Regions from separate parts of the Homo sapiens genome. Here region 2 is linked to region 1. Evidence: fine-mapped expression QTL. A gene starts in region 1. The other region holds a variant in brackets. All regions are shown on one strand. Distances are from middle to middle.

Region 1 (2,931 bases):
GAAGTATCATTTCAAACCATAACAGTAAAGTGTTATTTCATATTGGCCAAGTGTTTTAAAAATCTAATAAATGTGTATATTTTACAAAAGTAGAAATGAGTATTTGCAAAATAGTTAGATTATAATGAAATGTGATCATATATGTATGGAATTAAAATATGCAAATGGAAAGACAGCTACTAGTTTAGAACAATGCTACTTGCAAGTTTCAGACACATCTTGGGCCAGTGAACAAAAACATCTTCTGATTAGATGCAAGGATACTTACAGAATTAAGTATCTGATAGTTACAGAATTATCTTAAACTTTCCTTTTCAGGAAACACACAGGAAATACACACACATGCAGGGTTCAAATGTGTTAAAGTAAACAAGGTTAAAAAAATTCCTTAAAAAAATAGGGTGGCAACTATAACTTCCAAGGTAAATTCCAAATTCAGTACACTCTGTGCAAGTACCTCCAGTTGTAATTAATATTCTTCCCAGGCTAACCCATTATCTGATGGTTCTCTGTTTGGTTTATTGTTCTGGTTCACTAATGAGTCTGGGAAATTAAATGATTTCTACTTTAGTTCTTATTTTCTTGTAAATTCCAAAGGACCACTGGACTTTCTATATAACAAACATTTTTAAATATTTCATTTTGGCTTCCTTGTGAACCAATATTTAAAGCAATATTTTTTAGCTTCAACACACATTACTGACTTCAAACCACACAGAAAAAGACTAAAAAGTACATGCAAATCTTTACAAAACAGGTTTCAATATGCTACTTGATGATTTCAGAAACTGGGATGTACTCTAGAGAATTTATGCCATTTACAGTTATTTATAATTTTAGTTAATGTATAATTAATTTGAGGCTTTTACTTAATTCCTCCAAATTGATTTCTCCTTTACTTCAACTTGGCATCATCATCTAATAATTCAGTACTATTTGTAATAAGCTTCCTGAATCGAAAAAAAATTAACTTTATTTTTATTCTACTAATTTACACTAATTAAATTTCAGATTATTTAAAAGTAATATACTTTGCTATTCCCAGTAACAATGACAATATCTTTGTTCATTACAGAAAAGAACTTAAAAAGCACATATCCAAAATACACATTGCATTTGATCATGTAGAGCAAGTCAGGTATACCAAAAGTTGTGCAATTCAGATTGAAAATTAAACAAGCTAATGACTCTGTAAAGTAATAGTTAATAATTGCATATTAGACAACATGTTGACATAAGAGCTGTAAGTCATTTATAACATCTAACCTCATTATATTGGTCTGCAGTATAATGATCTTCATCATTTAAACATCATGTATAAATAGCCTAAGTATAAAATGAAAGTTTTATAATAATCCAAATTGGATTATAAATCACTTTAAATATTAACTTATACATACGACATGAAATGCCATTGGGTATGGTTTAAGCATAAAATATAGGAAGGTTGATAACTTGAAAATAATGCAAACCTGATTTTTAGATAAAGCCTAGTGACTAAGAAAACAGTTACTACCTTTTTTCCTGTCCTCCTATATAACTTCTTAGGAGTATTTATACAGTAGTGTCACCTCCCGTCATCTGGGTGATGGGAAAAATCCCTTAATCTTTTTTATTTAAAGAAAAATCATACAACTTACCTTTAAAATGGCTAAGAAGGATTTTTCAATCAAATGCTCCAACATTTGGACAATTCTTAATAGGATCAAATGGTATTCTGCAGGAAAGTCCTACACTGCAGTCCTCAGTACATAAATGCGTGAGAGTTTAAATATGCAACCACACCCCCTCCCCCCCCCAAAAAAAGAGAAGAGAAAGCACTCTACAGTGTCAGATCCCAGTGTGTGGTTTGTTGCCAGAGGAATTGAAAGAAAAAAAAAATCCCCCACACAGCACATTACTGATATGGCTAATAAGGGTCTATTTTTATGTTCTGGTGAAGACCCATTACCTATATCTGAGATATTCAGCATTTTTTTTTTTTTTGGCTATTTCCCATCCAAGTAAGTCAGAGGCCAGAAAAACAAAAGGAACTGACTTGCTGAGTTTCCCCTAACATATTCTCAGATGCTGAACTGAGACCGCTGGTGGAAATAGTAAATTTGGAAGAATAATCATATTCTCACTTCCCTGTCTTGACTGAGCTTGCGAAACTTATTTTATTAAGTTTAAATTTAATGTACTTTTTTATACAGCGTAATTCTGAAATACTGTGAGACTAATAATTCTGAAAACAATTGGAGACTGTCAATCAGCAAGGATGACAAACTGACTTAAAAAAAGGAAACAGCCTATTGTTCTAGCTGGAAGTTCTTAACTGTTTATCATTTTCTGTTAGTTTTGCAAAAATTTCATGATCACAGCACAGTGCTCCTACAAAAAATAAACTCTTTAAATTTCTTCAACCAAAATATGTCTAAGTAGAATTACTATTGAGGATAATCTTTAGTACTTAAGTCACTTTCAAAAAAAAAAAAAGCATTATGTTGATATTGAATCAAAATAGAAGGCCTTGCACTTTGGGGAAAGAACCTTCACTATCAAGACCCTGTTCTTATAAAGAAATTCTCAGAATCATACAGGAAAACCTTCACAGGGTTAACCTGGCATGTATTTGATAGGAGAGCTGGATAAATGCATTCAAACAACCTTAGAAGTAAAGTAACCTAAGAATACCAGACAGAAATATATTTAGTTCATTAGGTCATATTTAAACCAGTCCTTAAGTTAGAATGCTCGTGCTGTCCTTTTTGGGCATGTGAGGCACACAACGAATCCTTTCATTTGCAAGCAGTGCCATACAACTGAAAAAAAAAACCCCAAACACTCTTTTCTCCTCAAGAATTTTTTTTCCCCAGGGAAGTTTTTACTGACATATTTATTTAAAAAATAAGTCATAAAAATATTGTAAGTCTATTACTTTTTTTTCAA
Region 2 (2,931 bases), 22 kb before region 1:
AAAAAAAAAAAAGCCATAAGTCTGGTCCCAAAGGCGCTGGAGCCACACGTGACAGAAATGGCGCAGACAATTGTTGCAGGCGTGTTCATCACAACGGCAGGTTCCACGTCTAACGGCACGAGGCTCTCTGCCAGTGACCTGACCAATGGTGCGGATGAAATGCTGGCCACAAGCTCCAACAGGTCTCAGTACAGCATCTCCAGGGTGAAGACCCCGGTGTCCCAGGTTGGGGAGGATGAGGAGGACTACGATTTCGACGAGGACAACTGACTTCCTCTCCACTTCAATTTCAGCTTCAGGAAAATGTTTAGGAAAAGAAACTTCTTTTTTTAATGTGGGTTTTCTGTTTCCTTTTGGCCTACTCCCAAGAATATATTGGTAAGCTATTGAATTTAGATATGCACCTCCGATAAGCAAGGATTGTTTCCCATAGAATTAGGATGTGCTGTGGATGTGTGGTTTGATGCCAGTGTGCTAATGCAGAGCCTTCATATACTTTTTAGGATTTTGTGTTTCCGTTTTCTATTTTTCTTAAAATGCAGAGTTCATATTTGCCCCTTAAGAGTTTTTGCTGAGCTTGCTGAAGAAATTGTACTTCATCCACATAAATGCCCGCCTGTTGTGAATGGTGAGCACCAAATGCCCTTTATTTGCCATGAATTTGGACGGCACCCCCTGTTGGCGGATAGCTAGACTCTGCAGAGTTTTGTTTATTCAGTGGTGTGGTCTCTAGAGCCCCAAGCAAATAGCCGAATTCGACTTTCCAAACAATAGACACCATCAACCTTATCGACTTTATTTTCCCTTAAATTATATTGACAGTTGTGATTCCATCAAGTTTATATACTCTTTTTTTCTCCCCATTTTGCAGCAACAAATTGCAAAGTGCTTTTGTTTGTTTGTTTGTTTGTTTTTGTTTGGTTAAAGGTTATTGCCCACTGGTACAGCTACTGGTACACTGTCTGGAAAGCTCGGAATGGTTTATTGCTTATAGTAAAATTTGCCTGATTTCTTACAGGCTGCGTTTGGAAACCTTTTATTATATAGTTGCTTACATACTTAAAAGTCTTTCATTTAAAGACATACTGAAACAAATGTTGTACTTGTTTCTTAAGCATCTTCCTGTAATCTGTTATAAAATTGAAATTAAATATAGAGAATGTTTCGACAAAAAATAATGAAAAAAATAAAGTGGTCTTCTAATGCAGTCGATTCTTATGATTTTGTCACTTTCCAAATGACCATGCCTCCATTCAAAATAATGATATAGGAATACGTTTTGATAAAAATGGAAAAACAAGTAAAACCTAATAATTCTAATGATAGGATTAATTACATGAGTTCTAGAGTATTTTAAAATAGATAACTTTGTTGTTTGTCTACTC[A/G]CTGCCACAGCCAGATTGAGAACTGTGAAGTTGTCAGCCTCTGTTCCAACTGATAGTGAAGGTTCGAAGATGGCACCATTGGGCTGCAGGAAAGAGACTGTGTTGTCCTCAGCGTCCTGGGTTACATTTTCCTTGGCTAGAAAACGAACTCTAAAGAAATAGCAGTAAACAAAATTCAAAACATTTGTCATATGTGAACATTAGATCTCAAATGTCATTCATTCAACAAATGATTTTTGAACACACAGAATATGCCAGATAGATAGTATGTAAGCAATGGTGTTAAAATGAGAAATCAGCCAGGGTCTCTAGCAAACTAACGAGAAGGGGTCTTAAACTGGCAAACTGGAAATTAAAATAGTGAGAGAGAAGGAATATTGTTATAATGGAGACTCCATGGGAAAACACAAAACAGATCCAGATCCAGATTTAGAATGGTCAGGGTAGGGGTGAGGGTTAAAACACTTTTTAGTACAAGTCTACATAAATGGTCTATGTAACAAATACAAGTTTAGTTAGGTAAAGTACGGCAGATGGTAGCATGCATAAGAACGAACATAATATGTTTTGGGAAATGCAGATATTTGAGTGTGGTTGGATTACAGAGTAAGAGGTGAGGAGAGTAGTGGAAATAAAGTTATTGAAACAAGTAAGATCTCAAACATAAAAGAGTTGCATCTAATACTCAAACGAGACTTTATCCTGAGGATAAGGAGGAAAAAGTACAGGGGCTTCAGCAGGGGAATATTTAGAGCACATTTTCTTATATTAGAAAGAATGATCAAAATACAAGGCCTATCCAGCACTGCTTTTTCCCTTTTTCAGGACTTCTTTAATGAGAATTAGAGATAAGAATATAATTTCCATTTTTAAGGGTTATAGACTAACTTCCCCAGCCCCTCAAGTATATTGAATACTTTTGCTAGTTCTAATCTCCTGACTCTAACATATCTAGGCTGCAAAGTACCAACTACATTTTAGGAACGCGGTGAAGGGTGATTATTACAGGAAAAATACATTTCACAAGTGGAAGATATTCACTGAGAAGAAATAAGATATATATCATAATTGCACTGTCATATTTGAATGCCTGTGAAGTGAGTAGATAGCCAAGGTAAAGACTTAAGCAATTGGACTGAATTTTTTAAAAACCCATTTTATTCCATTATAATAAAAATGTAAATTCCTACAGGGTAGGGGTTTATGAGTGTTTTGTATCTCTAAGCATCATGCCTGGTATATAATGAGTTCTCAGTAAATGTATTTACTAAACAAATGTCTCAGATTCTTTAAAAAGAGGATTCAAAGTTGGCTAGAAATATATTTTTAATATAATTTTATTAAAACTACTATTCTTGAAGTACTGCAGACACACAAAGAATATAAAAATCTGAAACAGCACTCAGGACAATTGTATTTTAAATTAGTGTGCATATTACTAATATTTCAAATCAAAGTACTTCAATTTTCAGAAATATGCCCATATATTAAAACAATAGCAACATAATTGTCACGTTACCTAAAGTGTACTGACAACATTATACCA

The links.
Region 2: its variant is fine-mapped to the expression of CD36 in whole blood (TOPMed, PIP 0.97).

What each region holds. Positions count from the first base shown.
Region 1 is chr7:80,637,456-80,640,386 of GRCh38, reverse strand. CD36 (CD36 molecule (CD36 blood group)) reads right to left here and starts at 1,745. Exons shown (of 15, transcript NM_001001548.3): 1 at 1,641-1,745.
Region 2 is chr7:80,659,667-80,662,597 of GRCh38, reverse strand. CD36 (CD36 molecule (CD36 blood group)) reads right to left here. Exons shown (of 15, transcript NM_001001548.3): 5 at 1,388-1,535. Among named protein-coding and RNA genes, the nearest start is that of CD36, 22 kb to the right of the region's middle. The variant A/G (reference allele first, on the strand shown) is at 1,386.